Homo sapiens: one gene and its partner. The protein of the gene in region 2 purifies or fractionates together with the protein of the main gene of each other region. This does not show direct contact. Each region holds a gene or a part of one and is shown on either strand. Other genes may lie near its edges.

Evidence for each region.
Region 1: the proteins of PLXNA2 (region 2) and TMEM74B fractionate together in Homo sapiens (co-fractionation; one large-scale study listed by BioGRID). This does not show direct contact.

What each region holds. Positions count from the first base shown.
Region 1 is NC_000020.11:1,182,034-1,186,291, forward strand, and holds the start of TMEM74B (transmembrane protein 74B), read right to left. Parts: upstream 2,949-4,258; 5' UTR 2,269-2,948; exon of another isoform or gene 1,916-2,268; 5' UTR 1,769-1,915; coding exon 1,738-1,768; intron 1-1,737.
Region 2 is NC_000001.11:208,216,885-208,220,689, forward strand, and holds part of PLXNA2 (plexin-A2 precursor), read right to left. Parts: intron 1,119-3,805; 5' UTR 1,084-1,118; coding exon of another isoform or gene 1,039-1,083; coding exon 1-1,038. UniProt on the Homo sapiens protein: Coreceptor for SEMA3A and SEMA6A. Necessary for signaling by SEMA6A and class 3 semaphorins and subsequent remodeling of the cytoskeleton. Plays a role in axon guidance, invasive growth and cell migration.

The DNA of each region.
Region 1 (4,258 bases), on a different chromosome or scaffold from region 2:
TCTCCAGATTCGGTCTTCATCTTATCTATAAAATGGTAATGAATAAAATGCCTCCCTCATAAGGTTGTTGTGAGGATTTCATAAAATAGTGCATGCAAGACCCTGGCCAGTGCAATCCATGGACCTTGTTGTATGAGGGAAGGATGACGGAGGGGTGGGGGAGGGGGTAGAAATGCAGAAGTTGTTGTGGGAACAAAGAGGAAGGGAAGTTTCTGGGAGTTGGTGGCATTTGAGCCAGATCTCAGAAGATGAATTGGATACTTCCCAGCAATGGAAGGTGATGAGGGCATTCTGGAAAGGGGAACAGACTGCCTCAGAGGCCAGCTGGGGCCGGCTCACAGAGGACTCTGAAAGCCAGGCCAAGGAGCCCGAGAGCCATGCAGAGCTGAGGAGCTGGAGCAGGAAGTGCCTCGGCTTCAGAAGAAAGGAGGACTGATGAGATGGGAGGGGGCAAAGTGGAGGATGGGGGTCCAGCAAGGAAGCCAGCAGGTTGGGGATGGCATGGCTAAAAGGGCCAAGAGGAAGGGGCAGACTGGAGAGCCATGACTAGGTCAAAGCCAAATGCCTTTATGTAAACAGAAGTGTGGGGACCTGGACTAGAACCACAGGAGGGGAACCGGGAGGGAGAGGCGAGAAGAGGGACACTCTCTGTGCTGCAAGAGGAGTTACCCCACCCAAGAACCTGAACACAAACCCACCCAGACACAGACAGCACATGTGCATTCCCGCTGAAGGATACTGACTTACAGCCCGGGGACCATATTTGGCTGATAGAAGTTTTGCTTTGTTTTGTTCCTGGCCTGTTCATTTGTTTTTGGTGAATTAGTTGCAAATGTATAAAAAGCAAAAGATTTTAGATTTTACATTTTAAATGTTGGATTCCTGGCTTCTCCTGCAAAATGAAAGAATCTGGCCACCTTAGGCCCCCGTTCCCTTGTAACACTCGCCTGGAGTTGGCAATCGGGGCTCTTAGGCAGATCTAGCCTCTCCCCGACAGGTCCCACCTCAGCCCCCTTCCCTGCCTGGCATGTGTCATTCCTAATCCACAGCAGAACTGCATCATTCCTTGTATACACTGATGGCCTGAGGGCACATACACTCAGAGCCCTAGGCGCACAAGCCATGGGCTACAGAGACCACCAGGTGCAGAGTGGCTCACATGCTCCGGTGTGTCTACGCACACATACATGCACACACACACGATTCTCTGCATTCTCATGCCGGAGTTTATTCTCCAGTGCACTGTGGTTCGTTCTCTGTGTGTGTGTGTGTGTGTGTGTGTTTGTGTGTGTGTGTGTGTGTAAATATGAGCAAATGAAGTGAGGATGAATGGAATGAATGAATGAATGAAACTCAAAGAGCCTCAGTGCAGGAAGACATGTTTTTCAATCTTTCTGACCTTCTTGTCAATATGGACTAGCATCAGACACCTCCTCTTAGCACATATAGGGCCTTTCATGTGAGTACAAAGCTCTTTTCCCTTTACAGCCCATTTCTATCACTACGTCTCTCTTTCCAGAGTCTCAATTTAGTAAATGTTTACCAAGCACCTACTAGCTGTTGAGCCATGTACCCGACACTTCATGCAGGAGTATCTCATATCACCCTCACCAGCCCCACGATCCGGAATTACTGTCTCTATTTCATAAAACATGGCCAAGATCCCATGGCATGTATGGGAGGGTGGAGGACAGGAGTTGAATGCAGATTCCCTAAGAATTATTATCATGTACAAACCTGCAAACTCATACCCCTGTGCTGGTGGCATCACTCCACCAGCCTTCCCTGGCTCTGCATCCCTCACTCATAGACTCTTCATTTTATCCAGCTGTTTATCAGCAACCGTGAGCACCTTGAGAGCAGGCATAAGTTTGAATTCCATCTGGGTCCCCAGCCTGCGCCCAGACTGCTTTTACTTTCCAGTGAATAGACAGAAAAAAGAGATGTGTTTGTTGGTTGGCTTTTTACTCTTAGCACCAAAAACATTTTCCTGAGTGCCCAGCCACAAACAGGGACCAGCAGTGGGTGCCACATGGGTGCTCAGAAGTGGCCCCCACCCACACCCTCAGCACCTTCCACCCAACTCAGCTCCTGGAGTGGCCCAGGAACCCCTTTCCCAGACTGATATATTGATGCCTCCACACCCTGGAAGAAATCTGGAGCTCCCAAATTCTGGGAGCAGAGCTCTCCTTCATGCTGCAGGAACCCAAAACTTTTTTCTTAGGATGCCACAGTGAGAGGGCAGAGAAAAATGAGGATTCCTCTCACCCAGAGTTAGGACATCTCTCTGTTTCATGCCCAGGTTCAGAGATATTCACCAGTTACACAAAGGCCGTGCCCAATTACCCTAACATAAGCAGAAACACACCAACTGACATAGCTGCTCCCGCCCACCATTCACACCCCACGACCCCACCAGTTACTAATTTCATCTGCAGTCAGACAGGTCCTGAAAGGAACACTCCAGTTCCACACACACTCCCCCAGCAGCTGTTCCCACAGCAGTACCCACAGACACCCAGAAGTCACGTAGTGTGACCCTCGGATCTTCGGGCCACGCGAGTACCCCGTCACACGCACACGCGCGTACACACACACACACACACACACACACACACACACAAAGTGCCCCTGGGAGTGAGACCCAAGCCAGATCCACCAAGACCCGCAGGGGCCCAATACCCCACCCGCCGCGCGCACTGACACCCGGAGAGAGGGACGCACAGCGGCTGTGGGTGAAGCTTCACAAAACCCAGTCGATAGACACACGCACGAGTTGTACACAAAGCCTTGGGGCGCGCAGATACGCACACGCAGGTCCACGCTGTTGTACCCAAAGTTGCGCGCAGAAAGCCCCAGCACGCCGGCTGCCCACCGCGCCCGCTCCCGCCGGCCCAGTCCACACCCCCTGCTCCTGCCCTTGCCCACAGACGCGGGACCCGGAAGGCCGAACCGGACCAGGCGGAGGCCCGGGGAGGCCGGGTCCCCTGGTCGCATGTCCTTCGGCGGGCCGCGAGGTCAGGCTCGCCGTCCTTCGCCGCCACTCCCCGCCCCCGGCCCTCGGCCTCCTGCCGCCCCCAGCGGTCCCCTCTCCGCGTGCGTACCTGTGCCGGGCCTCCCTCCCCGCCTCACCACGCTGGGGCGAAGGGCGCCCGGCCGCCGGCGGGCGAGGGTGCGTCCTCTCCGGTGCCCGTCCGCCTTCCTGCAGCCGGCGTACGCCTGCGGGGGTCTCGCCTGCGGGGGTCTCTCTCCTGCGGCGCAGCCCGGAGGGCGCGGGCCCGGCCGCCACCGCCTCGCCCTCCCGGTCTCCCGCCCCCTTCCCGGCCCGGCCCGGAGCCACTGCCGAGGCGCACGTACCTACTCGCGCCGCGCGGAGCTGTACGGCGGCGGTGGCGGCCGCTGGGGAGGCGGGGGGGGGATCCGGGGACGGAGGGACGGGAGAAGGGGCGGGGGCCGGGGCTCGCCGAGCGCCGCGGAGGGAGCTCCGCCCGCGGCCGGCGAGGGCGCCCGGAGAGTTAGCAAGGAGAGGGACAGGAAGGCGGGTGATGGGCTGGGGCGAGGGTGCGGGGGCTCCGATCCACCGTCCTCCCCTCCCCTCCAGGCAGATCTGGATCGCCGGCGCCTGGGCTTAGGGAACTGGGGCTTGGAGCCCGCGGTCCACGGGCGCAGGGGCGGGGCGGGCGGGGGCTGCTGAAGAAGATCCCTCCCCACCACCGGAGAGCCCCTATTGCGCCAAGCGCAGGTGCCTCCCCACTCCTCACCCCCACTCTGCCACTTCCCCTTCCCCCCACCCCCACCCCGCACGCAGCCCCCAGGTAGGACCCCGGGTCCTCTCCGAGGTCCTTAGGTCGGGACGGTCTCCTCGGGCGCTTGCGGCTCCGTGGCTCAAGGGCGCCACCTGAAGGCTGCAAGAAAGAATCCGACGATCCCCCTCCCCCTTTTCTCTGCAATTTTTTTCTCCGTGGGACAGTGGAGTGCTCCGCCCAAGAGGGGTGTTCTCCTGGGGGCATTGCCAATGGCCAAACACACCCTCACCCTCCAAGGCCCAGCTGTGGGGCCTCTTCTCCTGGAACCCCTCCCTGGGCACACACCCACTTACCCCACGGGCCCCTCCATCTGGGCTCTCCTTTTGCCCGCACTGTTTGCTCTTGTCTCTGACGGTCGTGATTTTGTTTAAGGGTCAGCCTCCTCCATCGGATTGGCAGCTCCTGGAGAGCAGGACCCATGTCTGATCACCTAGAAGACCTAGGTGGGTGTG
Region 2 (3,805 bases):
ATACTGCTTCTGCCCTTTGGAGAAGATGGCAAAGAGTACATCGTCCTGGCTGGTGATATTGAAGGCCTGGGCCAGTGAGTCCCCAGGCTTGGCCAGGTAAGCAGCCTGCAGGAGGCGGTATTCCACCCCGGCCCGGGTGCAGCCGAAGGGCAGGGACACGTATGAGTGGAACTTGGGGTCATCCTTGCAGAGCCGCACGATGCGTGAGGTGTAGAAGAGGTCTCCAGCGGAGTTGATGGCCACACCCTCAGGGGTCTCGGGCTGGACAGTGAGAAAGTAGACAAAGCCCCCACTAGCAAAGCCGTAGATGTAGAAGATGTCAAAGTGGGAGACCAGGGCCAGGGTGTCTGAAGGGATCTTGATGAGAGAGGAGACAAAATCGCTGTGTAGCTCATAGTCGAGCATGGCTGAGGACTCAGGGTCTCGGGGCAGCTTCCGGCTGGACAGGGTCGGGAAGTAATCCTGCTTCCCATCCACAGCCGTGCCGATGAAGAGCTTGCCATCCTCACCCTCAGAGCGCACAATCACCCCGTACATGGTGCCCGTCTTGTTGACACTGGACAGGTAGTGCTCCTTCTTGTGGGATGGCTCCACCAGGATGAAGAGGTCATCCAGCCGCAGCAGCTTGCAGACCCCCTGGTAGAGGCTCCCACAGGCCAGCAGGCGGTTCTCAGAGTAGTCAATGATGAGCAGCTTGTTGACATTGTTGGTGAGGGTGAGCACTTCGCTGCAGGGCTGCACGATGAGGGGCGGGTAACAAGACTTGTTGTCCTCTTCTGGCCCTGTCTTATGAGCCACCTGGATGGTCAGGTTGCCTGTCAGCTTATAGACCCGGTTGATGGCCCCCACATAGACGGCCCCCGTCCCTTGGTGGACGGTCAAGTGGTTGAAGGTCCAGTCACGATTCTCAGAGTGGAAGGTGCTGAACTGAGGCATGCCGGCTGCTGGGGGGGCCAGCAGCACCCAGACCACTGAGAGCAGGACCACAGAGCGGCTGTCCACCTCCAGGGCCCGGGGCCAGGGCCGCCTCTGTTCCATGCTGAGAGGGGCGGCGGTGAGGAGACGGCTCCTGTGTGTGCTCATCTGCTCCACCTTCCCCGGTTGGCCCTCACATGATTCTGCAAAACACAAGGCAGAGTGGTCAGACCAAAAATAATTTCCGGGAGGAGCAAAGAGGCTGGCCTGACCCAGGGTCCCCATCCTGGTTTAGCTCTGTGAGTCTCCTCCTTCTGCATTTTGGTTTTTCTATTTTTAACATACTTTCTCCCTCTTAGGAATGTTCAGGGAATCCTGTTATCTATTTTGGTCTCTAGCCTTTATGCTATAAAATACTTGCTTTTTTTAAAATTTTATTTTACAAAGCATCTCTATTTCTGGCCCCTTAAGCCATCGTTTTCATCTCCCAGAGAGGTTAAAAGGCTGTTGAAGTTCACCCAGCCAGTCAATTTGATATTAGGACTAAACCCAGTCTTCCCTATCCTACCGGCACGTCTTATCCCAGCCCAGTGGAAGTCGCTCCTGTTTTTTGAAAGCTTGTTAGGCAGGCCCTCCCCCAGGCTCTCCAGGTCAACTGCTCCCAGAGTCTGATATTGCACACAAAATTCCTTCCTATTTTAGACTTCCATCACCTCACTCCGCTGCATCTCTTCACTTTCTCATGCTCTGTTATCCACAGAGAGGCAAGGAGCTGGTCACCCTGAGTGAGAGTGCCCTGCTCTGCCCTCAGCCCTTTCTTCTCCAGCAAGAAGAACCCCTGATCACTAGCTGTTAGAACAGCTGTTAGAACTTGTTAGGAAAGGGAAAAATGTTGTAGCCAACAAGACTGGGATTCCCACATGTGCCATTCCGGAGCCGGAAAAGCCCTCGGGAGACAGGCAGATCTCTTGAGATTCCCCCATCCTTCTCAAGGTGGACGCCCAGCTGCTGCCAGGTAGCCAGGTCCTCGGGAAATTGCTTCAACCTCTGCCTCTCTGCAGGCAGAGCACATGGGAAGCCAGGACACACAGAGAACCAGTCTCCTTGCTAGGGGTTACTGGCTGGCTGAGTCCAGCTTCAGCCACCTGGGGCAGGGGTACCAGATTTGGGAGAATGTGGGGAGCAGCAAAGGGTGGTGAGGTGAGATTCAGTCTCATTTCAGGCACTGCTGGGGCCTCCTGACTGTTTCAGCATCCATGAAATCACCAGCGGGCCTCAGTGGGCCATGCTCGAAGCCCAGTCTCTAGCCCTGACTCCTTTACTCTTCCCCCTGCCTCCTGACTCCCAGGCTTTAAGGCTCCTCCACTTCCAGAGCCTTGGTGCTTATTCTTCCCTGTTCCAAGGAAGCTGCCCAGAGGGGCAAGGTGGGGCTCCTGAGGACAGCCTGTAGCCAGGGGCAGTCTGGGCCAGGGGCAGGAAGTCAGAGAGCAGAGCCTGGAGGTCAGAGAGCAGGACCTGGAGGTCAGAGAGCAGGGCCTGTTCCATCACTATCATGGTACTGTCCTGACTTATGGAGAGGGACAGTGGGAAGTGACTGCGGCACCAGGAGAAGGCAGCGAGCTGTCCGGCAGAGAAAGCTTTTCTCAGCTGGAAGATCATCCAGCAACCTTCTCAGGCAAGTCCAGACAGAACTCTGGGCACATAAGGTGGCAGGGATGGAAACACCCGAAGGATGGAGAGTTTGCTCCAAGGCAGCTTAGGAGAGGCCTTTCTCCCTCAACTCCCCATTCTGGCTGGATTGGGTTATAATTAGAACAGACACCACTTAGAGAATCCCCTAGAGTTTCTTTAGGAACGACCCTTCCTCTTGTTCAGTTCTGCATCCTCGGCCTGGCAGCCACCGTGGTGCCACAGTAGGTCCCACCTAACTCCCTCCTCCAACCCGACTCCCCCAGGGTGTTCGGGGTGACTCATGAGGCCCTGGGCTTCCTTGGAAAGAGGAAGGCAACACCGGCATGAGACTCAGGCTGACCTCAGCTACTCCGACACAGCCCTTCCGGCCCCAGGCGCACACCGGCAAAGCCTCCCAACAGACAGGGCTTTCAGTTTGGAAACCAGAGGTTATTTTTAGCTATGTCCTGAGGCCGGTAGCAGGACGTGAATTCCTGAAGAGGAGCTGTGGAAAGGAAATAACAGAATCCTTAAATTCTCCAGCTGGATGGGGAATTGCAAGAGGCCATTCTCTGCCCCTGTCGCTGGGAAGAAAATCTCCTTGGGTTCCAGGTGGAGAGTGGTTCCTCCTTGAGGAGCCGCGAGGGGAGGAAGGGGGTTCTGGTAGCAGAGATAACATGGAAGGACTTAGTATGCGGTTAAGATCAGCCACCTCACCTCCCTGCTTGGTATCCTCCCAAGACACAGTTTGAATAGTGAGTGGCTTTTGTTGTTGTTAGACAGAATCTGGGAACAAATTTGGGATTTGAGGCAAGTCAAGTCTCATGTCCCTTTCTGGTAGAATGGGAATAACTACAGTATGTACCTTTCAAGTTGTCATGACAGTAAATGAGACAATATAGAGACCAACCTCTTAGCATGGTTGCAGGCACACAGTGAGCACTTAACTTATGTTAGTTTTTGTTATTATTATTATTATTGAGACAGAGTCTTGCTCTGTCGCCCAGGCTGGAGTGCAGTGGTATGATCTCAGCTCATTGAGACCTCCGCCTCCCTGGTTCAAGCGATTCTGCTGCCTCAGCCTCCACAGTAGATGGGACTACAGGCACGTGCCACCACACCCGCCTAATTTTTTTTTTTTTTTTGTATTTTTAGTAAAGACAGGGTTTCACCATGTTGGTCACACTGCTCTCAATCTCCTGACCTCGTGATCCACCTG